Homo sapiens: one gene and its partners. The protein of the gene in region 4 interacts with the protein of the main gene of each other region in a pairwise test. Each region holds a gene or a part of one and is shown on either strand. Other genes may lie near its edges.

Evidence for each region.
Region 1: the proteins of GOLM1 (region 4) and NINJ1 interact in binary tests that used the Homo sapiens proteins (3 or more experiments, as listed by UniProt).
Region 2: the proteins of GOLM1 (region 4) and GUCA2A interact in binary tests that used the Homo sapiens proteins (3 or more experiments, as listed by UniProt).
Region 3: the proteins of GOLM1 (region 4) and TMPO interact in binary tests that used the Homo sapiens proteins (3 or more experiments, as listed by UniProt).

What each region holds. Positions count from the first base shown.
Region 1 is NC_000009.12:93,127,752-93,131,251, reverse strand, and holds part of NINJ1 (ninjurin-1), read left to right. Parts: intron 1-3,500.
Region 2 is NC_000001.11:42,162,190-42,166,007, reverse strand, and holds GUCA2A (guanylin precursor), read left to right. Parts: upstream 1-1,262; 5' UTR 1,263-1,295; coding exon 1,296-1,370; intron 1,371-2,397; coding exon 2,398-2,605; intron 2,606-3,037; coding exon 3,038-3,102; 3' UTR 3,103-3,318; downstream 3,319-3,818.
Region 3 is NC_000012.12:98,539,590-98,543,089, forward strand, and holds part of TMPO (thymopoietin), read left to right. Parts: intron 1-3,500. UniProt on the Homo sapiens protein: May help direct the assembly of the nuclear lamina and thereby help maintain the structural organization of the nuclear envelope. Possible receptor for attachment of lamin filaments to the inner nuclear membrane.
Region 4 is NC_000009.12:86,026,559-86,030,058, reverse strand, and holds part of GOLM1 (Golgi membrane protein 1), read left to right. Parts: intron 1-2,165; coding exon 2,166-2,242; 3' UTR 2,243-3,500.

The DNA.
Region 1 (3,500 bases), 7.1 Mb from region 4:
CAGCACTTCCTGCTGTCTTGCTGGGGTTTCCTGCCAGGAACACAGACATGGAGCTGGGAGACCCTCTCAGGGCCTGCTTCCTGGGCTGGCCGGTAGGAGACGGTGCAGGGCTCCAGTGCCAGGCCCTGCCTGTCTGTGTGGCATCTGGGGAATGGGCACAGCAGCTCATGCCCACACTGGTGGGTCAGACAAGGGATGCCGGAAGCCCCAGGCAGGTCCTAGCATATGGTGGGGTAGAAGAGGGGTGCCTGATTTTCAGGTCGCCCCACCATCTGCCAATGCCTGCTGAGTCCAAGGGTTAGGGCCAGTGAGCAGGACAGGCTGCGAGCAGCCAAGGTGTAGACTGGGACCCCCCAGGCACCCAGGGCAGGCACCTCGTCCCTGTTGTCCCCCTGGGTCCTGCTCAGCACAGGAGAACCTGTGCCCCAGGCTGTCCTTTCTTTGCTGTGTGACTGTTTTGTGAGCCTGTTCAGCTGCTTTTGAGTCAGTGGAGTTGGTCGGGGAGGCAGAGTCTTTCAAAACAGTGAGAGCCAGGCATCAAGGAAAACAGCCCTGCCACCCACTGCCATGCGCTCCACCAGCCACGGGGCATCTGAGACCACCCCATTCAGTCCCCTCCACATCCTTGTCTACCCATTTTACAAATGAGGAAACTGAGGCATAGAGTGGTCAGTGTTGAGGCAGGACTCGGGGGGTAAAGGAGGTGCTGTGGCAGCTTCCAGCCCTACTCCTCACAGGCCCCTGGAAAGGGCGACTGATATGCATCACCACATTTGTGGGCCCACAGCCCCGACCCTGTCTCCTCCCATCCAAGCCCTGGGTGAGCCAGAACACCCATTATGCTATGGCCAGAGCCAGGCCGGTGGATGCAGCAAGCCTGGTTCATATCCCACTTCTGTGCCAGCCCCTCCTGCCTGAGCTGAGGATGCTCACTGAAGTGGCCCTAGGACCGACCGTGTGGCCCAGCCCCAACATGTGCAGCCTGCAGTGGGGAGGCCGACCGTCCACAGAAGGTTGCATGAGGAGCCAGCCACGCCCCTACACAGAGCTGACCTCCTCACCAAGCCTCCCTCCTAGCTTTCAGAGGAAATATATCTGGCCTGGCCCCAGGCCCCGAGTGCTGCTGAGGTTCTGGGAATCTATTAACCAGGGTGTTTATTCCCTGCCCTGCCCAAGCCATGGGCACTGGTCTCAGCAGGGCTTAGCTCCTGGCAGCTCCTGCTGGCTGGTCAGGACCACAGGGCTCCCTCACCTGTGGTAGCTGGGTCCCCCGGCCACCCTCAGGCCCATCCCAAGATAGAGGCAAGTGCCCAGGACTGGGGGAGAGTGGGATCGTCCTCCCTGGGACCCTCCTGTGTGGTGGTCAGCTCAGGGCTCCAAGGCCCAGAGTACCAAGGTTAGGGACAGGGAAGCAGACTGTCCCTGCTGCCCTCCCCTCCACATGATGCTCCCAATGTGGCCTGCTGCCTGGGGTGGTTGCCAGCTATGCTGTATCCTGGGGCAGCCCTATGCTTTGGGACACACAGTCCTGGGAGATGGCTCTGGGAAAACCTCCTCTGAGCTGCAATCTGCTGGTCTGTAGAATGGGAGAGGAACACAGCCTCTCCCTTGGTAAGCAGGAGTTTCCCAGGTGCAACCCTAGATATACGGAGGGGGAGACTGAGGCCAACGGAGGGGGAGCTTGCGTCAGGGCCACGGGCTGGGCTGTGGTGAGCCAGGGCTTGACCTGCATGCAGAAGCTTCCCTAGCTGCAGGTTGGACAGGAAGCAGATGGCCGGATGGGCTGGAAGTGCCCTTCACCAGCAGGGGTGCATGGTCAGGGCATTTGCTGGCCACTCGGGGCTCAGAGGCCATCCTGGGGCATCTGCTCCACAGCCTCGTGGTACACATGGAAGACTGAGGCACAAAGTGGGGCTAGTTGTCCGGACACAGCTGGAGCCTGAAGCAGGGAGCCATTGAGAGTTCAGCCCCTAAGGGACAATGGCATCAGCTACCAGAGCTTCTGAGCCCCGGGGCCTGGGTTCAAATCCTAGCCAAGCCCTCACTTGCTATGTGGCTTTGGGTAAGGAACCGCCTTTGCTGGGCTTCAGTTTACCCACCTTAAGTGGGCATGAGGACAGCAGGGGCACAGGCTCCTCGTGGCTGGGGGTGCTGAGAGCTGAGGCTTGGGGAGCTGGAGGCTCTGCGCGGATGGTGCTTTTTAATGGATCTGAGTGTTCCTCGTGACTGCATGGCTGTGAAATATTTAAATGGTTCTGCAGAGCTCAGAAAAAAAGGGAATTCTTCCTCCTGCCCAGAGGCCAACACAGTTAGCCTGGGCTTGTGTGTCTGTTTATGTACGTGTGCATATGTATGTATGTGCATGTGTATTTGTGTGTGCGTATTGTGTGCACATGTGTGTCTCACGTCTATGTGTGTCTTTCTGGGGGATGTGTGTTTCTGTGCTTTTGTGACTAGGAACACGCACATATATGTGTAGATGCCCCCAGAAGGTGGAAATCCTCACGGGGTCTGCACTTGGCCTTCTCCCAGCACCAAGTCCTGGGATGGAGACCCGAATGAGCATAAGGGTGGCCTTGAAGGAAGGCACTTTGGCACTTGAGGTTTGTGAAACTTAGGAGCACATGCCCACTGTGGCCAGCAGCCCCTGGGACACTGCACCTTGCGGAGCACACGTGTGATGGGGTGTGGCCCACTGGGCAGCTTCGCAAGAGCAGAACTGGAGACGACCTCAGTGCCAGGCACAGGCCCTTGTGTCCGGGCTGTCCTCACCCAGACCCTGGGCAGCCTGGGAGGAAGCCCCTAAGTGGACAGTGGTGGGACAGGGACACACAGTCCTGGGAGGTGGCTCTGGGCAAACCTCCTCCAAGCTGCAATCTGCTGGTCTGTAGAATGGGAGAGGAACACAGCCTCTCACTTGGTGAGTGCCCTGGCTGTGCTGGGGCCTGGGGGAATCCCAGGGAGTGCAGCGTCAGGCCCAGGGTGGGAGAGGCAAAGTAGACACCCCATAGAGGCTTCGGGGTATGCATGGAGTGACCCGAGAGCACACCAGGGCCCCAGGGACAGCGCTGCTGGGTGGCCCAGGTAAAGGCGGCTGTCCCTGTGCGCACATGTGTCCACGTGAACTTGCTACTTAGAGAGCAGCTGATGCTGAAGGCAGGTTGTTGGAATTCCCAGGCCCAGGTGTAAGCAGCAGAGCCCACCAGTGTCCCCTGACGCCCACTCTCTTCCTCCTGGGCACATAATTTTAGATGAAACTGAAAAACACGCAGCATGAAAGCAAGGCCCCTGCCCTCTGCTGGTTCTGTATTGGCTGCCTCGTGTATTTTTCCAGCCTGCAGAAAGTCGAGGCCTGGATGGATACCATGTCCGCCCCTCCCTGTGGCCCTGCGGCACCCCGGCCTCCCGGCCTGCATCTTTCATGAGTCTGGAAACAGGATCTCCCAGAGAGGGCCCCAGGAGGTTGGCTGCCAGCAGTGGGTTCTCACAGCTGCCTCCAA
Region 2 (3,818 bases), on a different chromosome or scaffold from region 4:
GGTCAGGCCCTGCTCTCTCCAATTCCCTCTTCAGTGTTGACTCTCCCCACCCAGGAATTCCTGCCCAACCTCCCGCCCTAGGGCTGTCCTGGCATCGGGCCAGGTTGGCTGAGTAGAAAGATGACAATCCCAGGGCTACCCTTTCTCCTGTGTCCTGGGGATTCCTGCTCACAACAGCACACAGTGAATGCACGCTGCCCTGAGGGCGCAGTCTGAATGGGGTCAGAGTCTATAGGGGCGCGGGCACACCCAAGCAATTCCCCAGTGAGATCCGCGGAAAGGGGACTGTATCTGCAGGGGCAAGGGGGGCGGGCGGATTGGGGAGGAGCTCATTCGAGGACACCCTGAGGCTGCAGGGCAGGCAGGACAGGATGGGGACCAGCACAGGATGGGGACAGCCTGTGACTCAGACAGGCAGGAGGTCACCAGAGGGGCCAGGGAGGACCAGGAGCTGCTGTGGCTGCTAATAATATGGGAATGGACCTCTGCTGAGCACCTTCTGTGTGCCAGGCATTGAGCTAAATGTTTTTAAAACCTCACTTGATTCTCCAAACAGTAATGCCTACCACACACCTACCCCATGAGGTAGGTATTATTTTTGGTTCCCACAGGGGACACAAGGGACAACGAGACTCAGAGAGGGGAAAGCATTGGCCCAAGTTCACACGCCTCACAACTGGGCAGTAGGTGGAACGGAACCCAGGCTGTGCGGAGGGCTTCCTTGAGGTCGCGGCAATCAAACCCAGACCCTGACTTGCCCTGCAGCCTCCCCCGTGGAATTTCTCACATTTCCCTGAATATTCCAGGCCCGTCTCACCTCCTGGCTGTCCCTTTGGCATGAAATGGCCTTCTGTCCTCAGTCCCTTCTCTGGGAAAACTTCCACCCATTCTCCAGAGCTCAGCCCCCAGTGCAGCCCCGTCACCTCATCCTAGGATCACCCCACCCTAATCGCCCTGCGTTTCACTGTCGGGCTGGGCCCCCCTCCTCAAGGGCAGGGTCTGCCGGCCCCACACAGCAGCACAGGGCAGTCGTGAGTGAATGTGCCTTGTTGGTGAATGAATGCAGGACCCAGCCCGGCTGTGGGTCAAAGTAGGTGCTCAGGGAGGGGCCGGGGCCCCCCCTGCCTGGCTCTTATCTCCTAGGGCTGTCTCGAGCCTTATCTGATAAGGCCTGACAGGTGAGCAGATGAGACTGACAGAGGCTTCCAGGTTACTCAGTAACCTGCCCTCTTTAAAAGTCCCGCCGCTTCCCCCTGGCATCCAGAACAGCCACCCCTCTCTCGGGCACTGCTGCCATGAATGCCTTCCTGCTCTCCGCACTGTGCCTCCTTGGGGCCTGGGCCGCCTTGGCAGGAGGGGTCACCGTGCAGGTGAGTCCTGTGTCCCTACCCCGGCCCAGCTGGCTCCCTGCCCCTAGTGCCCAGGTCTGGTCCCCTGAGAGAGTACCTCCTCTTTGGGGCTGGATTGAGGGTGTGTGTCCCAGGCTTGGCCTTCTTCGAGGAGCTCCTGCTCAGTCCAGCCACACACACACCTTTCCCTTCAACTTTGGAGGAGAAAGAAACCCAGTGGAGGGAAGAGGAATAACCATATGGGGAAGGCGGGGAGTTGGCCAATTTACTGAGTGTCCTATGTGCCGGCTCCTTCCCCAGCCCCTCACTGTGGCTCCACTATCAACCTGGAAGAAAGGGATCATTAGTCCCATTTTACAGAGGGGAAAACTGAGCCTCACAAAGGTTCTGTAACAGGCCATGGGCACATGGCTGTGGGAAGTGCAGGAGCTGGATTTAAATCCAGACCTTACTCCTCAGTGGGTCCCAGGAACCACATGGACACCCTGGAGGTCCTGACAGATGGGTATGCCTACCAGTGCCAATGCTGGCGACAGGCCAAGCTGGCACCTAGCGGGGGCCCTGATCTCTATCAAAGCCAGATTCCGGGAGGCCTTTTATTGCTTCTCAAACCAAAACCAGGCTGCAGGCTGGAGCTGGGGGCCCAGTAATCAGCCGCACCGCTCTCAGGCAGGGGAAAGACAGCCTGGGCTTGGCCACGTGGAACTACGATGCCTGGGTGCTGGTCCTTTGCCTCTCCCTAAAAATCAGCACACTGGCTCCTACTCATTAGGCACCTATGGTGTTCCTGGAGCTTCACACCCATTTTCTCCATTCCCCATACAACATGCAGAATTTGCGGGTTCCAGAGTGTCCAGCATCACGGAGCCAAGCCAGGACGTGGGGCCTGAACTCTGCCCCTCACAGTGCCCCACTGTGGATCGCCTGGCTCCCATATGCCACGAACACTGCCTGTGAGCACCACTGGGCTGGACCGGGGCCAGCACGGGGGGCACAGCCAGGAAGCAGGCTGCAGCCTGGCCTCATGCTCTGGGCTTCTCTCTTCCAGGATGGAAATTTCTCCTTTTCTCTGGAGTCAGTGAAGAAGCTCAAAGACCTCCAGGAGCCCCAGGAGCCCAGGGTTGGGAAACTCAGGAACTTTGCACCCATCCCTGGTGAACCTGTGGTTCCCATCCTCTGTAGCAACCCGAACTTTCCAGAAGAACTCAAGCCTCTCTGCAAGGAGCCCAATGCCCAGGAGATACTTCAGAGGCTGGGTGAGCAGCCTCCTTCCTCTCTGATTGGTGGGGTTCGGGAATACTGTGGTGGCACTTGAGGAAGAGATGTGCTCTGATTGGTGGGATTTGGAGGAAGGGCTCAGCTCTGACTGGTGGAACTAGGGAGCTTGGCTCTGATTGGTGGGTCTGTTCCATGCCCACTTCAATTCCAAGTTGTAACTGCTGAGGTTTGGGAACTAAGACCATTCATCTGGTCTTAGTTTCCTCTCTTTCTGGTGGAATCTCTGCTTTGATTGGTTGGTTTGAGTGGTCTGTGTGCCCTGGTTTGGGGCGAAAAGCCCAGTAGGTCAGAGTACGGGCCTGCTGAGATTCTCCTGGGGCTGGGTGGTGACGTACAAGCTCTGGGCCAAGGGCGGCAGGGGCCTCGCGAGGAAATGCTGGTTCTCACGAGGCTCCATCTCTGTTGTGCAGAGGAAATCGCTGAGGACCCGGGCACATGTGAAATCTGTGCCTACGCTGCCTGTACCGGATGCTAGGGGGGCTTGCCCACTGCCTGCCTCCCCTCCGCAGCAGGGAAGCTCTTTTCTCCTGCAGAAAGGGCCACCCATGATACTCCACTCCCAGCAGCTCAACCTACCCTGGTCCAGTCGGGAGGAGCAGCCCGGGGAGGAACTGGGTGACTGGAGGCCTCGCCCCAACACTGTCCTTCCCTGCCACTTCAACCCCCAGCTAATAAACCAGATTCCAGAGTACTCTGGGTGTTGCCTTCCTTCCTTCCTTCATCCCCTAGTCTATCCTGCCCTGGAAGCTCGGGATGTAATGTACTAAGCGAAGGACCCCACTCTCCCTGCTAAGCTGCTCACTGTCCCTGGGGCTGCCACAACACAGAGGCGTGGAGAGGATCTGGATCTCCAAACCACCAAGGCAGCGGGTGGTGGGGAGGGTTTGCTTTTATTTCACATCTCCTGAGGTCACCAAGTTCACTGAGCCACATGTGAGCACGGGAGCCAGTCTGAGCTGGTTTGGACAACCAATACAGGCACTTGGCCCACTAGAAGACTGGCACCAAACTCTTGGGTATTCAAGGACTTGGCTCCCACCAGCCATGCTAGTGTGGCCTCCAGCCCTGACCACATCCCAAACCACACCTCTTGCCATTTCCTCTGCTGCTGCTCACCTCTCCACTGCCCGTCTTCCCACACTACTGTCCAGGCAAACTCCTACTCAGGGTCCAAGGCTTTCATTCCACGGC
Region 3 (3,500 bases), on a different chromosome or scaffold from region 4:
CAGCCTCCTGAGTAGCTGGGATTACAGGTTCCCGCCACCATGCCCAGCTAGTTTTTGAATTCTTAGTAGAGACCAGGTTTCACCATGTTGGCCAAGCTGGTCTCGAACTCCTGACCTCAGGTGATCCACCCGCCTTGGCCTCCCAGATTGCTGGGATTACAGGCATGAGCTACCGCACCTGGCAATAAATTGCTTTTGATTTTTTTTATTTTGCTTTTTCCTGGAGTATATTAAAGCAGTCTTTGACATAGTGTTTCACACATTAAAAAGTCAGCATTTTAGCATATATCTCTGAAAGATAAGTGCTATTCCAGTGACAATGCCAATATCACACCTAATAAAATTAATAATTTATTTGTATCTAATTCATGTTTAAATTTCTCTAGTTTCAGAAATGTTTCGTTTATGATTATGTTGTTCAAATCAGGATCCAGACAGGATCCACATATCCGGTTTGATTTTTGGTTGTTTTACTCTCTCAAGTCTGTAGCTGTTACCACTGTAACTTTTTCTCTTCCCTCCATTTATTTGGTGAAGAAACCAGGTCATTACAGAATTTCCCAACATTCTGGATTTGTTAGGTTGCTTCTTTATGTCATTTAATTAGCTTCTCTATACGCTGCATTTTCTGTAGAGTGGGTTAGATCTGTAGTGAGGCTATGCAGTAGACCTTTCTGTGATAGAAATTTTTCATACCTGTGCTATCCGTTACAGTAGCCACTAGCTATTGAATACTTCGATGGTGACTAGTGAGGCTGAGAAACTCTGTTTTGCTTTGTTGTTGTTGTTGTTTTTGTTTTTGTTTGTTTGTTTTTTGAGATGGAGTTTCATTCTTTTTGCCAAGGTTGGTGTGATCTCAGCTCCCCACAACCTCTGCCTCCCAAGTTCAAGCGATTCTCCTGCCTCAGCCTCCTGAGTAGCTGGGATTACAGGCATGTGCCACCACGCCCGGCTAATTTTGTATTTTTAGTAGAGACGGGGTTTCTCCGTGTTGGTCAGGCAGGTCTCGAACTCCCGACCTCAGGTGATCCACCCGCCTCAGCCTCCCAAAATGCTGGGATTACAGGCGTGAGCCACTGCGCCTGGCGGAAACTATGTTTTAATTTTAATTTAAATTAAATTTCAATGACCATATGTGGCTAGTGGCCTACCATATTGGACGGCACAGATCCAGAGGGTTGGTCAGATCCATGTCCAGTTTCTTTCACAAGAATACTTAAATGATATAGCGGCCTTCCTGTTACATCGTTTTAGGAGGTATAGAATGTCTTTCTGGCGATGCTAAAATTAGTAATTGATTTAGATTTTGAAAGATTAATCCATCTGTTATAAAGATCCACATTGTCCTTTCATTTAATGGTTCTAACAGCCATTGTCATATGATTATTGCCTAGGTCTATTATTTTGAGGTTTTTTTTATGTATTGAATTTATGATCAGTTACAGTCATCATTCTTTTTTGATGTTCACATTGTGCCATCTGTAGCCATTAGGAATTACTAAGTTGGTTCCTGTATTTTTTAATTCCTTCCCCCATTTATCTTTGATAGTTTCTTGTTTTCTGGAATAGTAAGACGTCCCAGGCTCATGTATACTTCCTGCGTCATGCCTGGAATCAGCCATGTTTCTAAGGAACCGTGATCCTTTTAATAGATAATACTATTTGGAAGCAACAATTTGGATGCTGACATGTTCATTCCTACTGGTTGTCATTGTTTCTGGGTCTTTTCAGTAGGTAGTGCTAGGTAAATCATGAATTAATGGTGATATTTCAAATTTATAAATACAGGCTAATTTTGGGTTATGTTATACTTGTATCATTTTTATCTTATGCTGAATATCTTGGTTCTTCAAATGATGTTGTTACTTATGTAAGTATCACAACATATATGTGTTTCTAAATAATACAGTATTACTACTAACAATAAGACTGTTAAATGCAATTTGGGCTTTTGTTTTCCTTGTCTTTAGGACATATCCCACTAGAATGTAATGTCAAAACACTGTGCTTAAAGTCACTTGAAAGAATTTTTTTGTGTCATACAGCCACCAACTTAATAGTTAGGTTTTTTTGTTCTCTAATGCTAGGATTGCTTTTTCTTTTATTATTTTTTAATTGTGTTGAGAGTATAATGTAGTTTTATGTAGGCAAAATAAGGTAGAGTCAGAATTTTGGCTTCTGTCCTTTTCCCTTCCATCTACAGATAAGCATTTTTATTGTTTTGATTTATATTTTGTTTCTTTTTAAAAATATAAGTAAATATATAGATTTTTATATGCTCCCCTTTTACATAAAATGCAGCCTGCTTTGTACATTTCCATTTTTAACCTAAACCTAGAGATCACTCCATATCGGAACGTAGCCATCTTCCTCATTGCTTTGTACAACTGCATTTTATGTGTTGCATTTTATGGATGTACTGTAATTTATTTAACCACTCTCCATTTGGTGAATATTTGAGTTGTTTTCAGCTGTATGTTGCTATGAATAATGCCAGGATGAACCATGGAGCAGCATTTTGCATGTGTCACTGCATATTTTTTGCCAGTTTATCTTGGGGAAGCGTACCAGTAAAATTGCTAGGTAATTTCACCATTACATTTCTCTGCATATGAGTTGAAGCATTTTGCATTCCCACCAGCAGTGTTTGAAAGTACTGTTCTCAAATGGAGGAATATGAGGCTTTTTTGTTTTGTTTTGTTTTTTAATAAAGTTAGTACGAGTAACCATATTGGTCATGTTTTACTTAAATTGATAGGCCTTCAAGATGGCTTTTAGTTATCTCAGGAGCTTTAGAAATTATCTATTCCCAGACCTGGAGAGATTCTGATTTAATTGGTTATGGTAGTTGGGGGCATTTGCTTTTTTTTTTTTTTTTAAAGCTCTCCTTGATGGTACTGTGCCACAAGGATTGAGAATCTCAGATTATAAAACTACCTTTCCGTCTATTCAAATAGTTGGTAATTTGACTATTAAAAACCACTTACTCTGGCCAGGTGCAGTGGCTCACACCTGTAATCCCCGCACTTTGGGAGGCCCAGGTGGGTGGATCACCTGAGGTCAGGAGACCAGCCTGGCCAACATGGCAAAACCCTGTCTCTACTGAAAATACAAAAAAATCAGCCAAGTGTGCTGGTGCGTGCCTGTAATCCCAGCTACTCAGGAGGGTGAGGCAGGAGAATCACTTGAACCTCGCAGGTGGAGGTTGCGGTGAGTGGAGATTGCACCACTGTACTCCAGCCTGGGCAACAGAGCGAGATTCTGTCTCAAAAAAATAAATAAAATAAAAATTAAAAAGCAGTTACTCTGTGTATGTCTGTAATTTGTTTACAAGTTTCTCTTTTGACAATAATTTTGCATTCAGCAAATACTTCCTAATTGATAGGATGAGGAACCCAGAGATTCAGATTGTGACTTAAAACTCTTATAATATCAATTCCAAATATAGATAAATACAAAACCATGATTTATGAGACTATGTCTGTAACTTGTGGGGTTTT
Region 4 (3,500 bases):
TGTATTTTCAGTACAGACAGAGTTTCACCATGTCCACTAGGCTGGTCTCGAAATCCTGACCTCAGGTGATCTGCCTGCCTCAGCCTCCCAAAGTGTTGGGATTACAGGTGTGAGCCACCACCCCGGCTCTAACCACCTTTTAAATTGGGCCTAGTTTCCTACTAAATGATGGGCTTTGCGGTGAAGCCTTTTTGGATCTCTCATTCCCTACACTCAGGTGTCCTAAGGACTTGACCTTGTGCAAGGTTTTAAACAAAGTAAGTAGGTAAGGTAAAGAAAATGAGTGCCTTGTCAGCTCTTTGAAGAAGCTGAAGAAATGTCAACATCAGCTTCAACATTATTTTAAGATTGTGTCATTGAAACAGTGAGACCTTACTTGCTCCAGGGAAATTAGAAGAAAAAAGCATTAGCTCCAACTTTATTAAGAGCCTTTAACAGATACCGTTAATTTAATATGGCAGGTATTTAATGGTCATTAAACTACCATTTAATGTGCCATAGTTATAAATCAAGACCGTGGTTTTAGGTTTTATTTGTGATGTGCCTTTTTATGTTTTCTGTGTGTTAAAAGGATAGAGTAAGATCAGATGGTAGAAGCTACATACAGACATCAGCTCTGTAAAGGGAGAGCTTTGGAGTCACAAGAGCTGTCTGAAGCTGCAGACAGCTCTCAGGAGGCAGCGTGTGCCATTAGAAGTGCAGTAGCAAGGGAGTCACGCCGCACAGGAGCGTGGTGATTATATTTAAAATGTCATGAGTGCACTTGATACTGTCCATTTTCTATGGCATATGGGGCATTATGTCACTGTTACAAACAAGTATGGAATCTTTAGGTGCTTCAGCTTTGTTTCATGGCACATTGTTGGTCATCCATTTGGACACTTTGAAAGGGGAGGAGTTCCAGCTGGGCGTGGTTGCTCACGCTTGTAATCCCAGCACTTTGGGAGGCCAAGGCGGGCGGATCACGAGGTCAGGAGATCGAGATCATCCTGGCTAACAGGGTGAAAACCCGCCTCTACTAAAACTACAACAACAAAAAGAAATCAGCCGGGCGTGGTGGCGGGCGCCTGTAGTCCCAGCTACTCGGGAAGCTTAGGCGGGAGAATGGCGTGAACCCCGGAGGTGGAGCTTGCAGTGAGCTGAGATCGCACGACTGCACTCCAGCCTGGGTGATAGAGCCAGACTCCGTCTCAAAAAAAAAAAAAAAAAAAAAAAAGTTCCCTTATCCCCTTCACAGGGCATGCAATGGGGGTATGGCTTTCTTCTTCAGTGCCCCACAGCTCAAACCCCTAGGGGAAGCATGCGGACGGACAGGTTGTGGGGAGGATGGGTTTCAACCCCGCGGCAGCATCTAGGGTTGAGTGGTTACAGCTCCTGGAGCCCCACTGGGTGTGTGTTGCAGTGCGTTCTTTCAGCTTAGCTGTCCACAGGCAGCTTGTGTTAATCAGTTCAATTAGACCCTCTGCCTTATCGCAAGGACAGAGGGCTTTCTGTATCCCAGGTTCTTGCCCTAGTGTACTGAAAAAATCAGATCATGTGGGCTTGGAGAATGAATGCAAGATTTATTGAGTGGTGGAAGTAGCTCTCAGCAGATGGCTGGGGAGCCAGAAGGGGGATAGCATGGGAAGGTAGTCTTCCTCTGGAGTCTGGCTGCTCAGCAGCCGGGATCTCCTACTGTCCTTGGCCGAATTTCCCTTGGCGTCCGAATCGTTCCACCATCAATGGCCTGCCAGCGTCTTTCGATGTGTTCTTCTGCCAGTGTGTTCCTCTTGACGTCCAGCCGCTTGTGTGTGTGCCCGCTGGGGTCTCAGGGTTTTTATAGGCACAGAATGGGTGGCATGGCAGGCCAGAGTGGTCTTGGAAAATGCAACATTTGGGCAAGAAGACAGGAGTCCTTGTTCTCATTAGGTCCATGGGCACAAGCCTGAGGGTGGAGCCCTTGCCAGTGACCCTGCCCTTCTCTACCCAGCACTTCCCTGTCCCCCTCCCATATCACCGTTGCCATCTTGTCCTTGATGAGGAATACAACTCCCAATTACAGTGTTGCTGTGGGAGATGCAGTCCTCTTTATGACAGTTTCTAGAAGTTGATAAGAAAATGGGACCTGCCTAGGGCTAGTATCTCATTTAATACTCTATAGAATATTATGTGTTTTTCCTTTTTAGTTTTTAATGTTGAAGATCAGAAAAGAGACACCATAAATTTACTTGATCAGCGTGAAAAGCGGAATCATACACTCTGAATTGAACTGGAATCACATATTTCACAACAGGGCCGAAGAGATGACTATAAAATGTTCATGAGGGACTGAATACTGAAAACTGTGAAATGTACTAAATAAAATGTACATCTGAAGATGATTATTGTGAAATTTTAGTATGCACTTTGTGTAGGAAAAAATGGAATGGTCTTTTAAACAGCTTTTGGGGGGTACTTTGGAAGTGTCTAATAAGGTGTCACAATTTTTGGTAGTAGGTATTTCGTGAGAAGTTCAACACCAAAACTGGAACATAGTTCTCCTTCAAGTGTTGGCGACAGCGGGGCTTCCTGATTCTGGAATATAACTTTGTGTAAATTAACAGCCACCTATAGAAGAGTCCATCTGCTGTGAAGGAGAGACAGAGAACTCTGGGTTCCGTCGTCCTGTCCACGTGCTGTACCAAGTGCTGGTGCCAGCCTGTTACCTGTTCTCACTGAAAAGTCTGGCTAATGCTCTTGTGTAGTCACTTCTGATTCTGACAATCAATCAATCAATGGCCTAGAGCACTGACTGTTAACACAAACGTCACTAGCAAAGTAGCAACAGCTTTAAGTCTAAATACAAAGCTGTTCTGTGTGAGAATTTTTTAAAAGGCTACTTGTATAATAACCCTTGTCATTTTTAATGTACAAAACGCTATTAAGTGGCTTAGAATTTGAACATTTGTGGTCTTTATTTACTTTGCTTCGTGTGTGGGCAAAGCAACATCTTCCCTAAATATATATTACCAAGAAAAGCAAGAAGCAGATTAGGTTTTTGACAAAACAAACAGGCCAAAAGGGGGCTGACCTGGAGCAGAGCATGGTGAGAGGCAAGGCATGAGAGGGCAAGTTTGTTGTGGACAGATCTGTGCCTACTTTATTACTGGAGTAAAAGAAAACAAAGTTCATTGATGTCGAAGGATATATACAGTGTTAGAAATTAGGACTGTTTAGAAAAACAGGAATACAATGGTTGTTTTTATCATAGTGTACACATTTAGCTTGTGGTAAATGACTCACAAAACTGATTTTAAAATCAAGTTAATGTGAATTTTGAAAATTACTACTTAATCCTAATTCACAATAACAATGGCATTAAGGTTTGACTTGAGTTGGTTCTTAGTATTATTTATGGTAAATAGGCTCTTACCACTTGCAAATAACTGGCCACATCATTAATGACTGACTTCCCAGTAAGGCTCTCTAAGGGGTAAGTAGGAGGATCCACAGGATTTGAGATGCTAAGGCCCCAGAGATCG